Homo sapiens: one gene and its partners. The protein of the gene in region 1 interacts with the protein of each later gene in a biochemical or structural test. Each region holds a gene or a part of one and is shown in the gene's direction. Other genes may lie near its edges.

What was found. Proteins that work in one complex are often made in the same cells at the same time.
Region 2: the proteins of FGFR1 (region 1) and FGF17 interact in a test that uses a peptide from one of them, tested with the Homo sapiens proteins (one study listed by BioGRID).
Region 3: the proteins of FGFR1 (region 1) and FGF10 interact in a test that uses a peptide from one of them, tested with the Homo sapiens proteins (one study listed by BioGRID).

The regions. Positions count from the first base shown.
Region 1 is NC_000008.11:38,415,940-38,421,285, reverse strand, and holds part of FGFR1 (fibroblast growth factor receptor 1 isoform 1 precursor), read left to right. Parts: intron 1-1,550; coding exon 1,551-1,753; intron 1,754-2,912; coding exon 2,913-3,058; intron 3,059-3,294; coding exon 3,295-3,416; intron 3,417-3,869; coding exon 3,870-3,980; intron 3,981-5,225; coding exon 5,226-5,346. UniProt on the Homo sapiens protein: Tyrosine-protein kinase that acts as a cell-surface receptor for fibroblast growth factors and plays an essential role in the regulation of embryonic development, cell proliferation, differentiation and migration.
Region 2 is NC_000008.11:22,045,820-22,049,309, forward strand, and holds the end of FGF17 (fibroblast growth factor 17 isoform 1 precursor), read left to right. Parts: exon of another isoform or gene 1-153; coding exon of another isoform or gene 154-294; coding exon 295-472; intron 473-707; coding exon 708-814; intron 815-2,136; coding exon 2,137-2,430; 3' UTR 2,431-2,990; downstream 2,991-3,490. UniProt on the Homo sapiens protein: Plays an important role in the regulation of embryonic development and as signaling molecule in the induction and patterning of the embryonic brain. Required for normal brain development.
Region 3 is NC_000005.10:44,312,921-44,316,420, reverse strand, and holds part of FGF10 (fibroblast growth factor 10 precursor), read left to right. Parts: intron 1-3,500. UniProt on the Homo sapiens protein: Plays an important role in the regulation of embryonic development, cell proliferation and cell differentiation. Required for normal branching morphogenesis. May play a role in wound healing.

The DNA.
Region 1 (5,346 bases):
TGCCTTCAGAAAGGCCTGTCTCAGGCAGCCGCAGCAGGCTTCACGATGTCCATGTATCCTGTTTGCCTGCTGCCGTCTCTCCTCTCCCAAGAGGGGAGGTCTGCGTGTTGAGCCAGGGAGGAAGGAGCCTGCAGCCTGCTCAGGGTGGTGGCTGGTGACTGCGGGGCCAGGGCTTGCTGCTGTCTCTCGGAATGTCCTGCATGTGGGTCTGGCTGTTCCTGCTGGCACTGCCCTCTTCTCTCTCCCCTCCTTTCCCACTCTGCCCTGCTTGCCCGTCAGGGTCTCCGGATGCCCCTGCTGGAGGCAGAGAAGCGTTCTGTTTTTATCATCGTCCCTGTCTTGGTCCTGTCCGTGCTCCCCATGTGCTCCCAATCAGTTGTCTTCGTTCCTCAACATCAGGGAAAGAAAAAACAGCAACACTTCTCCCTGTCATCAGCTCTGCTGTCTCCTTGTCAGGCCTTGGGACGTTCTCTGGGCTCAGTCTAGGGTCGTGCCTCATGCCTCATGCCTCTCTGGGAAGGTTCCCAGGGGCGCCGCCTCCATGGTTGGCTGGTGGGTTTTAAAGGGGAAGGTTGGGAGGAGGCCTGTGGAAGGAGGAGGGCCGTCCACACCCGTGGGGCAAAGCGTGTTCCATGAAACCAGTGCTGTGCGTGCTGGGATGAAAGCCTCCCAGCCTCTCGTGCTGAAGGGAAAGGTGGACCGAACTGGCTTAGCTGCTGTGGCAATGGGGTGGGGGGTGAGTCCTAATCAGAAGGTGGGAGAAGAGAATAACAAAATGGAACTCCGCCCCCTGCCGCCACATTTCCTTAAGTTTTAGGAGTTGGGGCCTATGAGTAGAATTTGAAAGAACTACCAAAAAAGCTTATTTTTGGAAATTAAGTCAGCTTTGCCTGTGGTTTGGCTAGGAATAAATATTTACCTGTGTGCCCCTACAGAGATGACACAGACCCAAAGTGGGACATTGAGCAAGGCACAGGCTGGTTCCCCTCCTGTCCTCTGTCCTCATTCTGTGAGTGCCACCATCACCAGGTACTGTGGCCTGCAGAAATAAACGAGGCACCAACCCTGCCCTCAGGGACCCCGTGTCTTCTTAGGGACAGAGGACTCAGAAACATCTGTGTCCCCGCATGTTAAGTGCATGCACACAGTGCTGAGGCTTTGCAGAGAAGGGCCATGGCTCCCTGAGGAGACCAAGAAAGGCACATAGAAGTGACTTCTCAGCTGGCCCTTGCAGGATCCCTGGGTGCCTGTACCTCTCCAGTCCAGCTGAGCAAGGAGGCTCAGGAATTAATGAAGATGGGGCTTGTGTAGCACGATGGTTCTAGGCCATCCCTTTTCCATGGCTCAAGTCCATTGAAGGCAGCCTCCAAAATCAGGGGGTTGCCTGATCCTCCTAGTGCCACAATCCCAGTCCTAGCTAGAACTTGCCATGGTTCTTCTCCCTAAAAGTTCCCAGGGGACAGGAGACAGGTGTTGCTTTTCTAATGGAGCGGGACCTCGCATGGACGGGGCCCTCCAAGCCTGCTAACACCCTGTTCGCACTGACTCAGCCCTGGAAGAGAGGCCGGCAGTGATGACCTCGCCCCTGTACCTGGAGATCATCATCTATTGCACAGGGGCCTTCCTCATCTCCTGCATGGTGGGGTCGGTCATCGTCTACAAGATGAAGAGTGGTACCAAGAAGAGTGACTTCCACAGCCAGATGGCTGTGCACAAGCTGGCCAAGAGCATCCCTCTGCGCAGACAGGTAACAGAAAGTAGATGGGGGATTTGCACACTCAGCACCACCTCTCTCTCTGGGCCTCTAATGCCCTGCCCTCTCCATTGTCCCTAATTTATAGCTTTGGGCCTTATTTTCTGGCTTCTGGGCAAGGCACAGTGGAATATCATGAACTAAGTGCTCTAGAGTCTGTTTCAAGCTAGTGTAGCCCGTGAATTTCCTGCACCCTCCATATCACACTGCAAGTCCTCCGGACTCCTGGGACATGGATTGGGAGGAAGTCCTATTTGGACAGAATGTGCAGCCAATAGCATGAATTTGAACTGTCCCCAAGGGCTGCTTAGAAGTGCAGAGATGCAGGGTAGAGAAGAGAACTGTTTGTATTAGTCCATTTTCACACTGCTGAGAAAGACATACCCAAGACCGGGCAATTTACAAAAGAAAGAGGTTTAATGGACTCACAGTTCCACGTGGCTGGGGAGGCCTCACAATTGCAGAAGGCAAAAGGCACGTCTCACATGGCGGCAGACGAGAAGAGAGCTTGTACAGGGAAACTCCCCTTTATAAAATCATCAGATCTCGTGAGATTTATTCACTATCACAAGAACAGCACAGGGAAGACCTGCCCCCATGAGTCAATGACCTCCTACCAGGTCCCTCCCATAACACGTGGGAATTCAAGATGAGATTTGGGTGGGGACACAGCCAAACCATCTCAGCCATACCATACCCTTGTCCCCTGTGTGCCCACCCTTCCCCACGGGAGGAAATGGTACAGATGGCACAGGTGTGTGCAAGAATGACCGTTCCCTCAGAAGCCTGTGCTCATTCTGGAAGGTGCTTTGGGAGTTAGGAATCCATAAGCTAAGGCAAAGTATTTGCAAAGAGTCAGGAGAACAGAGTTGTTACTGCAATGATCAGTTATAAAATGTCAAGCTGGAAGAGGTGCATTTGGTCTGCTTATTTTAAAGGTGAGTGAAGTCCAGAAAGGCCAGCTTGTGGCAGAAATAGGTCAGTCCTAGAAGTTGGGCCTCCTGGCCTACCATGGTCTTTGGACCACTCTGTGTTGAGGAAAGAACATCAGATACACAGACATGTGCCTCTGCCATTGTTGGGAAGCCCTGACTAAGAATGGGAAGGAGTCACCCCGTCCCCCCTCCTTGCTCTAGGGTGACCCCACTCTTCCTTGCAGGTGTCTGCTGACTCCAGTGCATCCATGAACTCTGGGGTTCTTCTGGTTCGGCCATCACGGCTCTCCTCCAGTGGGACTCCCATGCTAGCAGGGGTCTCTGAGTATGAGCTTCCCGAAGACCCTCGCTGGGAGCTGCCTCGGGACAGGTAATAATACTTTGACTCCCAACTTTTTGAAGGCATTCCTTGCTTGCTATTCTAGTGGTGGAAGGTGTGTATACTAACACCTTCTGGGCGGTGAAGGTTCATGAAATGCCTGCAGAAACATTCATTCCACTTTCTGCTCGCAGTTGGGTGAAATACAGAGAGGTGGAGATGGGGTGCCTCTCAAGGTTTGAACTTCACCAGCCCCAACTTATGCCACTCTCTGTTTCCCCCGAAAGACTGGTCTTAGGCAAACCCCTGGGAGAGGGCTGCTTTGGGCAGGTGGTGTTGGCAGAGGCTATCGGGCTGGACAAGGACAAACCCAACCGTGTGACCAAAGTGGCTGTGAAGATGTTGAAGTGTAAGTGATGCTTCTGTCCTTGCAAAGAAAATCTTGTCCCATTCCAAGCAAACAGCAGGCCTCGGGCCCAGCAGAACAGCTTCTCTGGTGCCTTTGCTGCCCACACCTGCTCCGCTGCCTGCTTGGGGTTACCTGGGAGTGGAGGGGGTGTTCTGCACCTTGAGATTGTTCTATGACGTCACTCTGTTCCTTGGCGTCAACCTGGGCTGTGGTCAGGTGTTTATCCTGGATCCATCGCTTGCAGGCTTTCCTCACCACATCCCTGCCCACTCACTACCACCTATTGCAACAACGGCTCCCATGAGAGGGAAGAGAAAACAAGTTTGGATGAAGTGGGGAGGAGAGAATCAAGTCCCAGGGAAAAGCAGCCCCTCGACACATACCCCACTCCCTTAGCCTTTATCCTGCCCTCCTCCCTTCCCAAGTAAATGAGTCTCAACGTGTTCTTTAAAGCGGACGCAACAGAGAAAGACTTGTCAGACCTGATCTCAGAAATGGAGATGATGAAGATGATCGGGAAGCATAAGAATATCATCAACCTGCTGGGGGCCTGCACGCAGGATGGTGGGTGCCGGCCAGACTGGCTTTCCCTGCCCAGCGGGGAGAAGATCTGAGCTGGGGTATCAGTCCCAAGGCCTCTCTCAGCCACAGCTAGGGAAGGGGGTTAAGAGAGGCTGCTTTGGCAGAGGTTTAAAATGTGTTATCTCGGGATCTGGGCTCCGCTCATTGGTGTTCATTCAGGAATACAGATACCTAGATTCACACACGTGGTGTGTTAACAGAGGCAGCTGAGTAATTATGGTCTAAGAGCGCTCAGGCTGGGTGCAGTGGCTCATGCCTGTAATCCCAGCAATTTGGGAGGCCGAGGCAGGAAGATCACTTGAGATCAGGAGTTCGAGACCAGTCTGGTCAAAATGGTGAAACCCCATCTCTACTAAAAAATACAAAAGTTAGCCAGGCATGGTCACGCATGCCTATAATCCCAGCTACTCAGGAGGCTGACGCATAAGACTTGCTTGAACCCGGGAGGTGGAGGTTGCAGTGAGCCAAGATCACGCCATTGTACTCCAGCTTGGGAGATACTCCCGCTGTCTCAAAAATAAAATAAATAAATAGGCCAGGCACAGTGGCTCACGCCTGTAATCCCAGCACCTTGGGAGGGTGAGGCGGGTGGATCACTTGAGGTCAGGAGTTGGAGACCAGCCTGGCCAACAGGTGAAACCCCATCTCTACTAAAAATACAAAAAGTAGCCGGGCGTGGTGGCGCATGCCTGTAATTCCAGCTACTCGGGAGGCTGTGGCAGGAGAATCGTTTGAACACGGGAGGCGGAGGTTGCGGTTAGCCGAGATCGCGCCATTGCACTCCAGCTTGGGCAACGAGCAAAACTCCATCTCAAAAAAAAAAAAAAAAAAAAAAAAAATTAGCCAGGCATTGTTCATGCCTGTAATCCCAGCTGCTTGGGAGGCTGAGGCAGGAGAATCACTTGAATCCAGAAGGCAGAGGTTGCAGTGAGCCGAAATTGCGCCACTGCACTCCAGCCTGGGCAACAGAGTGAGACTCCATCTCAAAATAAACAGACAAACTGGGGCTCTTACCCCAATGTTGCTCGGGAATTTTCTGGACTATGCTGGGAGTAATTATTTCTCTGATTTTTTTTGGGTAGTAGAATGGATTTCCCAGGTCCCCTAAGAGGAGGCAGGAGATGGGAGGTTGGCCGGGGTGTGCTGCTGGGGGTGGGGTTTCTTTGAGGTGAAGCCAAACCTGCTCACCTGCTGCTGGCCCCATGGCCTCTTCTCCTGTGCCTGCAGGTCCCTTGTATGTCATCGTGGAGTATGCCTCCAAGGGCAACCTGCGGGAGTACCTGCAGGCCCGGAGGCCCCCAGGGCTGGAATACTGCTACAACCCCAGCCACAACCCAGAGGAGCAGCT
Region 2 (3,490 bases), about 16 Mb from region 1:
CCCTGAGGGCTCCTTCCAGCTCCCAGAGTCCTGATTCCAGGGCTGTGCTCTGTCAATAAGTGTCCCCCAGCCTGGGCAGACCCCAGTCCCTTCTGTAAGGTAGACGCAAAGCAAAGAGGTTATGACCGGCTCACCCAGGGGCCTGGGAAGGCTATGGCCATATGCCCACTTCACTCTGCAGGACAAGTGGCCTGTCCCCACTATATTCACCTCCTCACCCCTCTCCCTTGGATGGACCAGTGGTGGTGTCACCCAAAGCAAATTGACACTATTTTTCCCTTGGTAACCGCAAAGGGGGAGAATCACCCGTCTCCTAATTTTAACCAGTACGTGAGGGACCAGGGCGCCATGACCGACCAGCTGAGCAGGCGGCAGATCCGCGAGTACCAACTCTACAGCAGGACCAGTGGCAAGCACGTGCAGGTCACCGGGCGTCGCATCTCCGCCACCGCCGAGGACGGCAACAAGTTTGGTGAGAGTTGGCCCTCCCCCCAGGGCACCCACACCTCCACTCTGCCTCACTTCCACCCTGCCTCACCTCCTGGTCCATCCCCAGATCCTGTGTCAGGGCTGAGGGCCCCAAGGGCCTGAGTGTCCCCAACCCCTTCGCCTGAGTCTGGAGGTCAGTGTGGCTGGGTGGTCCCCTGCTGTAGCCATAGGCCGGCAGCCCCGATGGACGGAGGTCTTTCTCCCCTCCCCCACCACAGCCAAGCTCATAGTGGAGACGGACACGTTTGGCAGCCGGGTTCGCATCAAAGGGGCTGAGAGTGAGAAGTACATCTGTATGAACAAGAGGGGCAAGCTCATCGGGAAGGTGAGGCTGGGAGACTGGGAAGTAACAGAGAATCAGCCCTACTGGGGTGGGGACATATAGGGCATCATGCTCCCCTCTCTCCTCTGAGCCACACACCCTCCTGTGTAAAGACTTCCCATCCTACTCTCAGCCCACCCACTGGGCCACTCTCTGGTTTTTATTTTAGAGTCCGGGTCTTGCTCTGCTACCTAGGCTGGAGTGCAGTGGCACAATCATAGCCCACTGCAGCTTTGTACTCCTGGGCTCAAGCAATCCTCTCGCCTCAGCCTCTGAAGTAGTAGCTGGCACTATAGGTGCATGCCACCATGCCCAGCTAATTTTTTTTTTTTTTTTTGTAGAGATAGGGCCTCACTATGTTGCCCTGGCTGGTCTCAAACTCACGGGCTAAAGCGATCCTCCCACCTCAGCCTCCCAAAGTGCTGGGATTACAGGCGTGAGCCACGGAGCCCGGCCTGGTTTCTCTATTTAAATGAGTCCCCGGGACTCTATTAGCCCTCTGAGGGGACTGGCAAGCCACTGGGATCTGTGGGGCTGATGTCAGGAGTATTTCTCCAGCAGGCATCAGTAAGAGCTTAGCATCTACCTGACACTGCAGCCTCTGGGTGGAGGACTAAGAGCTGTTGAGGGTGGAAAGTGGGGCACAGATGTAAGACAGGAACTCCCCCAAGTTCAGTGGGGCCAGTGGGCTCCAGCTAGCAAGATAGACACTAAGCAGCTGCCCCTGTGACCAAAGCACACGGTAGGCCGGGCCCTGCTGGGTGGGAGAATTCCACTTCGTTTGAAACCAGGCAATCCCAGCTTCCCATTCGGCTGTCGCTGACCAAATAACCTTTGGTTTGCTTATCTTTGTCAAGCCTCAGGCTTCTTGTCTGTAGAAATGGGCACAGACCCCTGATTGCAGACAGAGTGGGATGGGTGGCTGCACTGGCACCCTTCTTTCTTCTCATTGGAGGCTGCTGCCTCCTCTCCCATGCCCAGCAGCACCCCTCACCTAGGCTGCATGAGCATTTCAGTGCTAAGGGCCCGTGCATGCTGGGAAATGCCGCAGGTCCTTGATCTTCACCTACATCTCAGGAAGCTGAGGCCCAGCCTGGTTCAGGACCGCTAAACGACAAGCCTGCAACTCAGATCCACAAAGCGTGTTCTTGTTGGCCACTGTTGCCTCTCTAAATAGGATGCCATCTCACCAGGCAGAGTTCCCTGGGCTCACGGCCCCGTTGTTCCCGTTGTCCCTCCTCAGTCGTCCAAAATAGGCCGTAAGGGCGACACCCCAGACCAGGGTAGGTGGACAAATGCCCTTCCTGTCCTTGCTTCTCCCGCAGCCCAGCGGGAAGAGCAAAGACTGCGTGTTCACGGAGATCGTGCTGGAGAACAACTATACGGCCTTCCAGAACGCCCGGCACGAGGGCTGGTTCATGGCCTTCACGCGGCAGGGGCGGCCCCGCCAGGCTTCCCGCAGCCGCCAGAACCAGCGCGAGGCCCACTTCATCAAGCGCCTCTACCAAGGCCAGCTGCCCTTCCCCAACCACGCCGAGAAGCAGAAGCAGTTCGAGTTTGTGGGCTCCGCCCCCACCCGCCGGACCAAGCGCACACGGCGGCCCCAGCCCCTCACGTAGTCTGGGAGGCAGGGGGCAGCAGCCCCTGGGCCGCCTCCCCACCCCTTTCCCTTCTTAATCCAAGGACTGGGCTGGGGTGGCGGGAGGGGAGCCAGATCCCCGAGGGAGGACCCTGAGGGCCGCGAAGCATCCGAGCCCCCAGCTGGGAAGGGGCAGGCCGGTGCCCCAGGGGCGGCTGGCACAGTGCCCCCTTCCCGGACGGGTGGCAGGCCCTGGAGAGGAACTGAGTGTCACCCTGATCTCAGGCCACCAGCCTCTGCCGGCCTCCCAGCCGGGCTCCTGAAGCCCGCTGAAAGGTCAGCGACTGAAGGCCTTGCAGACAACCGTCTGGAGGTGGCTGTCCTCAAAATCTGCTTCTCGGATCTCCCTCAGTCTGCCCCCAGCCCCCAAACTCCTCCTGGCTAGACTGTAGGAAGGGACTTTTGTTTGTTTGTTTGTTTCAGGAAAAAAGAAAGGGAGAGAGAGGAAAATAGAGGGTTGTCCACTCCTCACATTCCACGACCCAGGCCTGCACCCCACCCCCAACTCCCAGCCCCGGAATAAAACCATTTTCCTGCAAATGGGTTATCTGAAGCGGGGCGGGGGATCCGACCACCGAACACCCCTGGAAACGAGCCTGCCCGTCCCCGGCCGGGCGTGGCCACGGCAGGTGCAGGCGCGGCCCGCAGCGCTGGGGCCCCCAGGAGGCCGCGGGCTCGGCCCCGCGGGAGGCGGGCGCGTCCAGGCCGGGCGGCCCCTCCCTGGCGCGGGCTCGGGTTTCCTGGGCTCGCGCGGCGCGGCCCGTGCTACCTGTTGGGGAAGAAAACCCGAGCCCCCGGAGGGGCCGGGGCCGGGGCCGGGACGTGCATCCAGCCGGGCCCCGGGCCCCAGGCCCCAGGCCCGAGGCGCAGGCGAGGGCCCTGCGGAGCCCGGCGGAGCCCGGGCGGCCCGCGGACGCCAGGAGCCTCCTCGGGCAGCGAGATTGCTTTTTTTCCGGTGAGGAGGGCGGGGGCGGGAAGCGGGGTTGGGCGGCCGGAAGGGGGGAGGGGGCGAGAAGGCGTCCCCTGTCCTCCCGGGTCCC
Region 3 (3,500 bases), on another chromosome or scaffold:
CATATTTGAGAACTATTGGTATAGAAGGTTGGTTAACTTGCCACTATTCTGATTGAGCACACAGTAAATATATATTTAGCACCCACTCTCTGAGATTCTTTGCAACCCTATGAGCTATAGGCCAGCGGTCCCCAACCTTTTTGGCAGCAGAGACTGGTTTCGTGGAAGACAATTTTTTACACGAAAGGGAATGAGGAGATGGTTTGTAGATGAAACTGTTCCACCCCAGATTATCAGGTATTAGTTAGATTCTCATATGGAGTGTGCAACCTAGATCCCTTCCTTGCATTGTTCACAGTAGGGTTCGCACTCCTGTGAGAATCTAATGCTGCCACTGATCTGATAAGAGGCAGTGCTCAGGCAGTAATGCTAGTGATGGAGAGTGGCTAAATACAGTTGAAACCTCGCTCTCGCTTGCCTATGGCTTGCCTCCCGCTGTGTGGCCCAGTTCCAATATTGGTCCATGGGACATTACAGTTCCCATAATGTTTTGAGGCTTCACTTCATTTAACTTTGTTTCATTTTTAAAGAGAGGTAAAACCACATTTAGAGCCATTTAGACTCACACTATGGTATGGCCACATAATCCCAGAGGTATTAGTGAAAATGTGATAACAACCCCAAGGAGCTCCCTAAGTCCTTCTGTGCTAGGATATAATAGATGAACTTAGGACACTGACAACAATTCTTGGGAGAGAGAGGTTTCATTTAGAGAGGTTAGTATTTGTGTCTTACATTGTGCTAACTATGATATGTTTCAGCACCTTGATTAAAACTATAAAACTATATAGCATTATAATCAATTTCAAGTTAAAATGTTTAGAGAAAAATAGATGTGACTGATTCTGAATTAATGAGACTTTCCACGTTTCACAATAATTTTTTTTTGGAAAGTACATTCCTCACCCAGAAAAGCACCACTACCACTCAATGAAGCAGAACCTTTAGTTTTAGCTAGTGGCCACCTCAAAGTGCCATTGGGGGAGGTGGGGAGAAATGTGGCTCAAGCACTTGAGCTCTTTCTCTCTCCAAGCCTGTTTTTATGCATGCACTTTCTCTCCCTGGAATGTTCCTTCTCAACTTCCCAAATCCCCCCTATTAAAACCCTGCTCTTGAAAAGTCACCTCAAACACCAGCTGTCTTCTTCAGGATGGCTTCACTATTTAAAGTAATGTATAACATATTTTATCTCTCATACCACACTTAATATATTTTCTTTCTGGTTTTTTTTTTTTTTTGTATTGTCATTACTTATTTGGGTCTTTATTTTATTGAGCTTTAAAACTCCTTGAGGCAAGGACCACATCTTGTTTGCCTTTGTAACCTTCAGAATGAGAGCTAACACCTACCCTGCACACTGGTGCTTAATACACATTAGCTGAATTAATTTACTCAGTCTATAGAATTCCATTGTATATTTATGTTCTATTTATCTAGGAGTGGATAGAAGGATTTTGCACTTATTTTTCACATCTAGTTTTCCTTGTCTATATCCATTCTATTAAATACAAGTTTTATTTGCCATATACTTTCTCCTTTTGTGTTTATGGAAAAATATTTAGTGAGAAACTTACCCTCCAGACCAATAGCTTTTTCATTCTAATAGCACCAAAACAGAAGAAGCCTTTGTCCAACATGATTGCTAGGGGGACAATAGGTCAGATGCTCCTCTTCTGGAGAAGAATGAGAAGCAGCAGCTGGGAAAGATGCTTGTGAATGGCCACCTTCTCAGATTAACTATTTAGTCACTCATCAAAACATTACCAGCCCAAACAATTATATATATGAGTATTAAAAGAAAAAAATGCATTTACACGAAAATTGTGACTTCTAAGTTATTTCCACTCAGAGATTATCAAGTCACAAAATTTTCTCCATTACTAAGGTGATGATGCATCATGAGGGAACATTCGCAAAGTAATATGAACTGATTTTTGTCATAATCGCTTTTGTAATGTTGACTATCAAACTTTATTTTTTAAGATTTTAAATATAATCTAAAATAAGCTTTATAGATTGCTACTATTTACTGAAGAAATTTGCTAAATATTACTTTATTTCTAATGTATTCTTTAAACAATTTTATATTTGTAGACAAAATCCTTCCTAGTTGCCAAAATTCTTAGAATCTGCACAAGATGTTTACTAAACTGAGTCTCATTATCTCCCAACTTCACTTTTCCCAGCTTCCTGACTTGTTCCTTGTACTCCAGTTGGTAAATCAAACCTCTTATGATATTTGAAAACACCATACTGTTTTACCTTAATAATTTGCTCTTGCCTTCCCACCCTTCCCAGCCTTCCCCTGGACACTTCTTAACCTTCATGACTCAGTTCAGGTCTCATCTCCAACAATAATTTGATCGTGGAACCCCAGCCAGTATGACCTGCCTTTACCTTTGCCCCATAGTCCCCTTGTCATCATCTTAAGTCATCACTTACTGCCATGTAACATGTTTTATTGTAATTATCTGTGTTTGTCTTTTATTCCCAATAGTACATAGACTTATCAATAGAAAAGCCATTACGTATTTGACTTTATATTTTCATTTTCTAAAAGCGTACCCTTCTCCTCCTAGGTCTTCCTAAGTGATTGAACTAAATTGTCCAAAGACCCTTAAATAGATTCACAATACTACCTGGGCTATTCATGTTTTAAGGGACATAAAAACTAATATAGTTACAACTTAATATAAATAATAGAATTTCACTACAAGAATATGCCTATAAATTTACAAAATATCTGTTTTACATGAATGGGAAATATAATTCATGTGTCCTTTCATTAATAATATAATTTTCAGGTGTTTCTTTGAGTTAAAAAAAAAAAAACCTTTTTTTATAGCTTTTAATGTTAAGGTAATTGTAGAGTCATAAACTTGTAAGAAACACGGGGAGATCCAGTATGCCCTTAACTCACTTTCCTCCAGGAGGCTCTTTTAACTGGCATTTAGTTTTGATTCAAAATATACACATATAGAACTATAAGCTACTGATCCAACAATCCTCAAACAAAATTCTGGAGCTCCTTTCCAAAAATAATTTGATAGGCAAACTTGATCATCCTCACCAAAGAACAGAAAAACTGGAGTGATTCCTTACAAAAAGTAAAGAAGTCCTCTAGGCTTCAGTCCTTCAGAACTCCCCTTTCACATTCACAGATGTTTATAATAGGTGCAGTCATTGTCCATTACTCACAAGATGATCAAATTATAACTTACCTGACCATACGCTGCGTCCCAAAATTATTTTCAAAATTCGAAAGGATATTAAATCACCTATGTCTTCCCTCTATTTTGAAACAATAACTAAATAATAATATAAAAATAATAGCTAAACCTTTTTAAGCTTGCCTAAACTAGTTGCAAAGTGGAAAAAAAATGGTTGATTGAGTCTTTGAATATTGTGCTCCCATTTCAGGTAAAGCAGAAAGAAACAAAGGGGTATCTAAGCTAAATATAATCTACAATACCACTTGCAGTTCATCCTCAGAAATAACG